2 separate regions of the Homo sapiens genome follow, and region 1 is linked to region 2. The links come from fine-mapping of genetic effects on plasma protein levels. A gene starts in region 2. The other region holds a variant in brackets. All regions are shown on one strand. Distances are between the middles of the regions.

The links. PIP is the posterior inclusion probability: the model's chance that the variant is causal. The UK Biobank Pharma Proteomics Project read protein levels with antibody pairs (Olink). The fine-mapping took linkage between variants from a reference panel, not from the people measured, so its PIPs are less certain.
Region 1: its variant is fine-mapped to the plasma level of the GIMAP8 protein (UK Biobank, PIP above 0.99). The variant lies in the coding sequence of GIMAP8. If it changes the protein, the assay may bind it differently, which can mimic a change of level.

Annotation. Positions count from the first base shown.
Region 1 is chr7:150,464,859-150,470,237 of GRCh38, forward strand. It overlaps GIMAP8 (GTPase, IMAP family member 8), which reads left to right. Exons shown (of 5, transcript NM_175571.4): 2 at 1,813-2,476. The coding sequence starts at 1,841. Among named protein-coding and RNA genes, the nearest start is that of GIMAP8, 17 kb to the left of the region's middle. The variant G/A (reference allele first, on the strand shown) is at 2,165.
Region 2 is chr7:150,447,419-150,452,797 of GRCh38, forward strand. It overlaps GIMAP8 (GTPase, IMAP family member 8), which reads left to right and starts at 3,212. Exons shown (of 5, transcript NM_175571.4): 1 at 3,212-3,757. It overlaps LINC00996 (long intergenic non-protein coding RNA 996), which reads left to right. Exons shown (of 4, transcript NR_034033.1): 4 at 1-722.

The DNA of each region.
Region 1 (5,379 bases), 17 kb after region 2:
TGAAGAGGTTATGGCACAGAGTGATCAGATAATGAGTGTAAGCACATTGTGAATTGGCAGCTAAGGGATCTTTGCCCTCTGCTGGAGCAGTTTTGATGGAGTGGTACCAATCTGTCCCAGTGACTGACTCCTCCCTGGACTCCCACAACATTGTCCTCATGTGTGTCACATTCTTATCTGCTTGCTGCATCTATGCCTTTTATTTGTTGTTGTTCAGTCTTTTCATACAAGTGACAAAAAGGATGCTGGAGCAGGCTTGGTGAGAACAGGAAGGGAACCCATCAAGGGGCAGAGACACTAGAAAGGGTGTGAAATAACATGAATAACTTTCTGACTTCACCATGGACCATGGAGGGGTGGCCATCCAAGAGGGTGCTGTACGAAGCTTTCATAGGGAGAGCCACTCTCTTGTAGATCTGCATAGGTAAACCTTCCCAGGTGAGGGCATCATGGCCAGCTTTGCAGTCTTGGAAACTAAGTTTTTAAAGAGAGGAACACAGGATCCCTGGTGTAACCCTGTGTGGGAATCACAGCTACTTGCTGATGTACCCTAAAGGGAAAACCTGTGATTATGGTAGAGGGGAGTTTTTTTCCTCGCAGCGACAGTTTTGCCATGAATTTCCAGGCCTCACTTGATTTCAGGTCAGGGTCTCTTGGGCAATCCAGAAGAAATTGTACAAGGCAGGATGACTGAACAGGTACAGCAAATCAGCTCAAAACATATGTCAAACAAGGTGGGGCCTGAATAAATAAATACAGATGAGTAGTTCACTTGGCTGGAGCATACAGTGTGTTGAGGAGAGTGGCTACAAGTAGAGCTGACTCTGTGGGCTGGAAACAGATTGCAAAGAGCTTGGCACATTAGCTCAAGAGTTTTGGGTTTGACTTGCCTGGCAGGTGGAAGCCTTTGCAGGGAGAATATTAAATCCAAGCAGCACTATCTATATACTGAAATCGTACCACTTTGCATTTAGGTAATATGTGGAAACTTGCAAGGTACTTTCTCATTTGTCATCTCATTTGAGTTTTATAAAAATATCCTTGAAGTAGGTAATACCGCTTCTATCTTATGGATTAGGACACTGAGACTCAGAATGGTTAAGTGGCCTCTACAGATCTCAGCTAATGCGTGCAGAGCAGAAGGTGAACCAGGTCAGAGTCCAAGACCATGGTCATACCCACCACATCATGCTTCTCTGTTAACTTCACCTGGCACTGGGTGCATCACGAGTCCCACAAATGAAGTTTTCTAGTTTGTCTTCTGTGATATTATTTTCAGAGTATCATGTATACCATATATTATATTTGCTTGTATGCTCTAGACATTTCATTGCATTTTATAGGGCAATGCTTCCCAAACTTGGCTACTCATTAGAATTACTGTGACATTTGATGAATACAGATTTCTAGGATCTTTCCTTTGAGATTCTGATTTAATAGGTGTAGGTTGGGTCCCAGAGATCTGTATTTTTTAAACATCTGACCATTACTATTAATTATGAGATTTCCTTCAACTTTGAAACATGCTTATTTAGTATGGTTTCTAACATATCTGACTTCTTGTGGTTCCTAATGGTAAAAAAAAAAAAAATTTAAGGAACTAAAAGAGATCTCTAGGTTTGTCTCAGAGATGAGGGAACAGGAAGATCCTGGGAAAGTGTTTCTTGTTCTAATCTAGTCTGGGTCTAGAACTTCAGTAGCTCAAATTCATTGGCGGCAATTTGAGTCAAAAAGAGAATGTCTTTTCTTGCTGTTTTCCTGTCCACTCTGTGTGGGAGTTGAACATTAATGTGTTGTTTTCTGTCCCAACAGAACAAGCGGGAGCCTGTGTCAGGAAAGCATGTCAGAGCAGAGCTGCCAGATGTCCGAACTGCGGCTCCTCCTCCTGGGAAAATGCCGCTCGGGAAAAAGTGCCACAGGAAATGCCATTCTGGGCAAACATGTGTTCAAGTCCAAGTTCAGTGATCAGACAGTGATCAAAATGTGCCAGAGAGAGAGTTGGGTCCTGAGAGAAAGGAAGGTTGTGGTAATTGACACCCCTGACCTTTTCTCCTCAATAGCTTGTGCTGAAGACAAGCAACGCAACATCCAACACTGCTTGGAGCTCTCTGCTCCCAGCCTCCATGCTCTGCTCTTGGTAATTGCCATCGGCCATTTCACAAGG[G/A]AGGATGAGGAAACAGCCAAGGGCATCCAACAAGTGTTTGGAGCTGAAGCCAGGAGGCACATCATTATTGTCTTCACTCGGAAGGATGATTTGGGGGATGACTTGCTGCAAGATTTCATTGAAAAAAACAAACCTCTCAAGCAGTTGGTTCAAGACTATGAGGGCCGATACTGCATTTTCAACAACAAGACCAATAGTAAGGATGAGCAGATCACCCAGGTGTTGGAGCTCCTTCGCAAGGTTGAGTCTTTGGTGAATACGAACGGAGGACCCTATCATGTGAACTTCAAAACTGAAGGCAGCAGGTTTCAAGTAAGAATTTTGTTAATATCTTGAAAGATCTCTATGTTGCTGAACTAGTGGGATGAAAGTGGGTATAAATAAATGAAATATTGCATTGTGTGATGGAACATGGGTTTTGTTTAATAAGATATTTATATATAATTTGCAGGAATAAGAGGTATCAGATTTTAGGGTACTTTAATTATCAGCCTAAGGACTTTAGGCTTTATTAGCAAATTAATGGACAAATTTAAGCCTTTATCTTACTTGGTCCCTCATATTCTTCAACACACAATGATTTGTTTGACTCTCTCTTCCCCTGACTTCAATATAATTGCCCTCTCCTTGTTCATTTGTTTTATTTTTCCCTCTTTTTCTGGCTATTCCAAAGATCGCTGAGTCCTTCTCTAATCTCTGACGTCTAAAAATGAACATCCTCAGGGCTTGGTTCTGGCCTTCCTCAATTCTTTGTACTCTCTTCTCAGATGATCCCACACTTTTATGGCATTGAGCTTCATCTACTACTAACGGTTTTCAAATGAGTAGTAACTCTAGTCCAAATCTGTCCTCTGAGTTCTGCCTCCTTTACACAATTGCTGCTTGGGGTCTCCACTTGTCTCTCTTATACTTTCTCACACTTAATATGTCCAAATTTTTGATTTTCTCTTTTAAATCTATAAGACTTCTCCTTCATGCTTCAGAAAAGGGCTGTGCTGTTCACCATGCTCTTTGTACCCACACCCCAGTGTCAGCTCTGCTACCCTGGTAGCTCCCCTTGGAGAGCCAAGAAATCATCAGGTCTTGCGGGATCAATATACCCAGAATCCACCTGCTTCTCTCCATCCCACTCCCACCACCTGGTCCAAGCCTACATCGTTTCTTGCCTAACCTATTTTAACGTAATGATTTTCTCCTCATGTATTCTTGGGCTGTATCCCACAACCCATCTCACACATTACAGCCAGGGTGAGATTTTATTTAAGCTTTTGATGTGAAAGGAAAATGTATTTGTAACTAAGGAAGATACAAAAATGCAGTCTTTTGCCTTAGAGGTGCTTACACTTTAACTGGAGTGGCTGATGCATAAGAAACAAAGCACTCCTGGCTGAGTGTGAGGGGGATGCTAGCACAGAGGATTTGGCAAGGGGAAGCCCCAGAGGGTGTACAGCAGGCACACACTGAGCCTGATGCGTAACATCAGTTACGCATGTCCGTACTATGGAATAAATTCTATCTACTTAAAGAATGATGTAGTTCTATCTATATTGACTCCTACAGATGTACAGAATGCATTATTAAGCAGATTGTAGAACATATAACTTAATAAGTCTCCATATGTTCATGTATGCTTGTATGTATTTGTATGAACATAGAAAAAGTTAGAAGGATATATACCAGTTAACAACTGTTACTTTCTGGTCAGAGAGAGACTGCTCAGAGGGAAGAGTAATAAGCCCAAGCAGCATGGAAATAAGAGAGAAATCATTTACTGAATGCCCACTAAATTCCAGACAAAGACATAAACTAATTAAGTCCTCGTGACAACCCTATGGACAGATGCTCTACACATGAGGAAACTGAGGCTCAAGAGGGCTGAAGACACTTGCTCTCTTATCTCCTAGCCTGAGTGCTCCCTCCTCTGTGACAATCTGTCTCTTCCTTGAGGGCTGCATGGAACAGGGATGTTAATAAAGAGAAGAATGGGTGTGTAGTAAGTTTCCTACAATGAAACCCTCTGGTTTTACATGCTCCAGTGACTTCCTGCTGATCATAAGGTAAAGTTCAGAACTCTTAATTTGGCTTGACTCCTTGCCCTGTGCTCCGCTGTCTATGCCTTGGTCCTGCTGGCCTTCCTGTTTGCCCCTGAGTTACACTCACATCCACTCCTGAGCCTCAAGCCTGTGATTCTCTCTGCACTGACACTTGCTCTCCCCCATCCCACCCTGTACCAGGTTTGCTTTTATTTCTCCATCTGCATCAGCTAAAAGTCACTTCCTCAGGGAGTCCTCCCTGACCATCCTGGCTCTCAGGCCTTGGAATGAGCCCCACAGCTTCCTTTCCTCATGGCAATGTCACCACCACATCAAGTGATTTCACTGGTTGTCTACCTACCCACTCCATGAGGGCAGAAGAAATCATATCTGTTTTGTTGACTATAGCATCTCAGTTTTGTCTTCTGTAAAGCAGAGATAATAATCACATGTATGTCAGGAATTGCTGTGAGAATTAAATGAAATGCTTACAAAGTCGTTAACAAATGCTTGAAACTTGGTAGGTGTTCAGTAATGCTGTTATTATGATGATGATGAAAATGCCTGAGGATTAAATAAATTAAGGAATCATTAAGAACTTTAACAGCCCAGAGACTGAGTTAGAGCCATACTTTTAGAACTCTATGCCCTGGAAATAAAAAAAAAAAGGTATACCTAAAGATATATGTACAAGAATAGTTAGCACAGCATCATTTGAAACAGTAAAACCAGAAATAAACCGAAGATTGATCAATGAAAAGATGGTTGCATCAGTTACGCATGTCCGTACTATGGAATAAATTCTATCTACTTAAAGAATGATGTAGTTCTGTCTATATTGACTTCTACAGATGTACAGAATGCATTATTAAGCAGATTGTAGAACAAATAATAAGTCTCCATATGTTCATGTATGCTTGTATGTATTTGTATGAACATAGAAAAAGATAGAAGTATATATACCAGTTAACAACTGTTACTTTTCTGGTGGAGTGGGAATGCAAAGATCATTAATTTTTATATTATGGACATTTACCTCATAACAATCTTTTGAATTTAGAGAACACTAAATAATTTGAACTGGGCTATGTAAGGTTAAAGAAATCTGATAATGACAGCTAAATGGAGAGGATGCAGGGAGAGGGATGGTTGAGGGTGTCAATGATATTGGGCAAAGCCAGG
Region 2 (5,379 bases):
GCCAGGCTGCTCTTGAACTCCTGACCTCAAATGATCCACCCGACTCGGCCTCCCAAAGAGCTGGAATTACAGGAGAAGCTAAACGTTTTAAAATAAGTATATTATTTCTGAATTACTATAACAGACATGGACTCCATTTGAACAAGATACTTAATTCCATCAAAAACTTGTCAAAATATACAAATTTAGTCACAAGACACTTTACTACCATCTACCAAAGCTGTAGTAAACACACACATTTTCCATCTTTGAAATGAAATAACGTATAATAATGTTTTCCAAAATAACAAAGATGTCTGCAGTGAATAGCACTCCCTTTGATGTGGCAACTGGGTCAATCGTGTTAACAACTGTGAATTCATCTTTTTAAGAAATTCTTTTATTGTTTCTTTTCTTTTCCGCGACAGTCTCACTCGTGTTGCCCCGGCTGGAGTGCAGTGGCGCTATCTTGGCTCACTGCAGCCTCCGCCTCCCGGGTTCAAGCAATTCTCATGCCTCAGCCTCCTGAGTAGCTGGGATTATAGGCACGTGCCACCACACCCAGCTAATTTTTTTGTATTTTTAGTAGAGACGGGGTTTGACCATGTTGGTCAGGGTGGTCTCGAATTCCTGACCTCAGTTGAGCCGCCGGCCTCGGCCTCCCAGGAAGTGCTGGGATTACAGGCATGAGCCACCAGGCCCGGCCTTATTGTTTCTATTTGTAATAAATCTGTTCCCCTTGCTGCTGTCTCTGCGTTAGTTCTCCTCATTTCTAGCTTGGGTGCTGCAGCAGCCTCTGACCGGTCCTTCTGTCTCCAGCCTGACTGCGTTTTCTCGCACCTGCTGGGCTGTCTTAGGGCCCCGATGCCGGTGGCGTTTGCCATTCTCCGTCTGCCTGAGGCGTCCTCCCTCCGTCATCTGACAGGCAAATGTTACAGCCCTTCAAGACTTAGGCATTACCTTTCCCGCGCGGCCTTCCCTTCACTGTGCCTTACAATCTTCTCCATGGCAGGACATAGTGAAACTCCGTCTCTACCACTCCGTCAGTACCTGCCACAGGAAATGGCGGGTTTACGGATTTGTTTATAAGTTTATTTCCCCAATTGGTTGTTTTTCCATCTTGCGGGGTTTACATCGTCTCCTCCTCACTTGCGTGGCAGCCTGGACGCATCTCTATCACAGCACATTACCTCGTTTCGTGACCACAGCGTAGTCTCTTCCCCATCCTCAGACTGAGTTAGGGCCCCTTTGAGTCAGGTATTTGCCTTGCTAATCTTTGTGCCCTCTGTGTCTAATACGGTGCTTGGTCCTGGTAGATTTCTCCTTGCTTGCATAACATGTGTCTTCCTGGCTTATTCGATTTCTGGAAGTCTAGAACTTCTCCCCAGTGTTTCACCTGCCTGCTGAGTCAGGGCTCTCGGCCCGCTGGGGAGCATTTTGCTGCACTTGTCATTAGCCACAAAGCCACTAGGGGGCAGGGAGCCCCCATCCTGCCTCAGATCGGTGCCAAACCAGAACCCGGCAGCCTGCCTTCTGCACGGAAATCAATTCTCTAGGAGCTGATTTGCTGAAAGATCATTTTGCAAAATGGTCAACTCAGCAAATAATCGACTTGCTGAATCTTTGAGGAGTTATTTGCAGCTTCAGTTTTACTTAGAGCAATCCCTGGATGCTTAATATTTCATTTAAGAATGAGTGAGCCTTTTCTTCTCTATTTTGGGGAAACAGTTTCTTGCTGAGCCTCTGCCTCTGTTAGTACCCCAGCGGGGATGAACTGCAGTACCTGGCTTCGGGTTTTTGTCTTTTCATTATAATGAGTTGGTTTTATGTGCGTTGACCTACTGTAAAGGAAGGGTGGGGTTCTTCCAAAATAGATCCTCTTTCAATGAGGAGACAGGTAGAGTGGGACATGGGAAGGGCTTTGTCAGCTTTCCCCATCAAGATGTGTCCTGTGTGTCCCCAAAGCTCTTCTTGAGCCATCCCAGCATAACCAGGGTTTCCCTCAGGTTCATAACAAGGTAGAGCAGTCCTCAAGGCTGGCGCATGAAGACCAGTCCAGGGGGAGGGTGGATCCCTCGGGATGTGATAGGCTGACAGCAGCTCCCCAAAGCCTGTGGTTTTGACTACTGTAGAGACTTCATATCTGAAGCATGCCCCTCTACTTCAGCCACCCCCACTGCTCCTCCTTCTGCGGGGTCCCTTTGGAAAGCTTAGCACCACCTCAGACATTTGGAAAACTAACTTGAGCTCCAGTCCCTCGAGGCCCTAGCCTCTGCATCCTGTGAAGAGGGCCCTGCTGTGCAGAGCGCAGAGGGTCCCGCACTCACTTGGATGAACCTCTAGGGCATTCTGCTCAGTCTCAGGAGGGCAGACACTGTGGGACTCCACTCACATGAGTATCTGACGTTGCCAAAAATCATAGAAACAGGCCGGGTGTGGTGGCTCACACCTGTAATCCCAGCGCTTTGGGAGGCTGAGGCAGGTGGATCACTTGAGGTCAGGAGTTCAAGACCAGCCTGGCCAACATGGTGAAACCCCGTTTCTACTAAAAATACAAATATTAGCCGTGTGTGGTGGCGGGAACCTGTAATCCCAGCTACTCGGGAGGCTGGGGCAGGAGAATTGCTTGAACTCGGGAGGTGGAGGTTGCAGTGAGCCGAGATCACACCATTGCACTCCAGCCTGGGCGACAGAGCAAGACTCTGTCTCAAAAAAAAAAAAAAAATCATAGAAACGGAAAGTAGAACGGTGGTTACCCGGGCTGGGGTTCGGGGAGGTGAGTTGGGGTGTAATGGGGAGAGTTTGGGTGCTGCAGGATGAAAAGTCCTGCAGATCTGGCACACAACCATGTGAATGTACTTTCTACTGTGGGCTATACACTTAGAAATGGTTAGGATGGTACTATTAATGTTACATCATTTTTACCCTAGTAAACATTTTTTAAGAAGTCTTCCTCCGTGTTTGACTTCCTTATGAAGTAGAGACCAGGTAGTTTGGACACTATGTTCTTTCACAAAAGGGATTTCATTTTGTGAAATATTTGAAAGCATCGAAGTCTAGCATTTCACGTTTTGCAAGCTGGGGAAAAGCATTCATTCCCTGAGAAGCAGCGTTGGTCTGTCAGGCTTGGAGTTCCCCGGGTTGTGGGTTTTAGGGAAGGGAAGGGAAGCGAGGAAGGACTTGTGAGAGGAAGTCCTAAAGGCCACTTAAGGGCACACAGAGGCCCGGAGCTGGCTTTGCTCAGAGCTTGTAGCGGCGCCACAATCTCTGTCCTCTCAGGAACAGGAACTGGCTTGACGTCCTTTTCCTGCCCTATCCAAGCCCCTGTTCTTGCAGCCCTTCTGAAGCTCAGCCTGGCACCGGCCCCGGCGCCCCAGCCCCTGGCCAAGCCTCTGCTGTCATTTCTCCTCCCTCCTCTCAGTCTGCAGCTGCGGGACGGGCCGGGCTCCTCAGTTTCTGCTGTGTTGTGACCCCACGAGGCGCTCAGCACCCAGGGAAGGCGCGTGTGTCCCCGATGCTGGCTCCTCCCTGAGCCCCGACGGCTCTCGAGGTTCTGAGCCTGTGGCCTGCACAGGGAACTTCCTCTCCGACTGCATTTATGCCTCTGTGGATGTGAAGGCTATTTCTAGAAATCTCTTCCTTTGCAGAAACACCCGAAACCCTCCTGCCAGGAAGACCAGGGCCTGGGAAGAGGGTCGCTCTCCGGCCATTCTCCCCTCACCCTCCTCACCTTCCTCACATCCTGTGCCCTGGGGGACCAGCAGCTGCTTCCACCCAGGTGAGAGATGGAGGGATAGAGCCAGGTGGATTGCGGAGCCTCGGAGACTGTGGGACGCCGTGGGACCCCATGGGACACGACCGCAGTGCATGTGTGACATGTGCACTCGTGTGTAGATGTGTGTGCACTGGTGCATGGCTGTGGGGGAGGATGGGCTTGGCACCGGGAAGGCAGCCTGCTCAGCCATGGGAGAGGAGGCTGGGTTGAATGGCAGGGTTGAATGGCAGAGTTGAATGGCAGGGGCCCTGGGAAGCTTTCCTCCTGGTCCAAAGCGTGTCTCCCCAGCCTGCTGGGGAGTAGATTCGGCAGGATGGGGACAGAGGCATATTCCCAGACATCTATGAGAGTGGCTGTCCTAAAAGAAGGCGTGTCGGGGAGTGGGTGTGAGCCCTGAAGAGGAGGAGGGCTGAGACTGGCAGAAGGGAGGAAGAAGCAGGCGGAAGCAGCCGGTCAGATGCCCCATGAAGCTAGATGGTGCCGCAGAGCAGCCCCCAGGAGGAAGCCAGCGGAGCTCCTCCCGCAAAGCAGGGGGTGGGGGATGCTGATTTTTCCACGTCTGCTTTTCTGATCTTTCCTGCCCCTTGCACAGTTAGGATTCTGTGAACTGGGCATTGGAGGGATTGGAGGGGTCAAGACCTTACCAAAAGCAATATTTCTGATTTCACCTACATTTCAGCCAACCTGGTCCTCAGCAGTTAACCTCTTCCCTTCCTCTTGATGGTTGCCCTGCTGGGCTGGGTCTAAGGTCTTCCCCACGCTGGGCTCTGGAGGCATCTCCAACCACCCTGCTCTGTAAGTGGGAACTGCGATTAGATGTGGGATGAATCCCCGCATGGCTGGATGCTGTGCTCAGATGCCTGAGTCCACGTTTGCCTTGGGCTGTTTCCTGAGAAGGAGGCAGAGGCTGCCTTTACAGTCTTCAGTGAATTATAGGAAGAACGCTCTCTTTTTCTCTCAGTTGCTCTGCTGGGGTCTCCAGAGTGGCCTGGGAAATTGAGCAGAGGGAAATGTGGGCTGGCAGAGCGTGAGTGAGGGTGAGTTTGGGTACCTTTTTGTCCTTAAGTGCACTTTCTACATGTTGGGGTGAAGTGCTACTGGCTGGGAAGCTGTATGTGTGGTAGGAGTGTGCATGTGCGTGTGTGTATGTGGGTGTGTGTGTGTAGGTCCTGACATCATGTGGAGCTGCAGGCAGGAGTCCAGCCAAGACTCATTGGTTTGGTCATACTCTGCTGGGGAACCATGCAAGGCTGTGTCGCTTAATTGGGAAAGAAATTTCTTTCTTCTTCAGACCTGTGGGAGGCCTCTGCTTCCTTCAGCTTGCTGTTTTCTCACTAGTGTCTTTTTTTCTTAAATTAATTTACAGAGACATCTCACTTCACTTGCATATATATGTGTGTGTGTATGTATATATGTATATATATGTATATATGTATGTATATATGTATATATGTGTATATATGTATATATATGTGTGTATATGTGTGTGTGTGTGTGTGTGAGATATATATATATATATATATATATATATATATATACATGCGAGTGGAACTACAGGCACCCACCACCATGCCTGGCTAATTTTTGTACTTTTAATAAAGACGGGGATTTCATCATGTTGACCA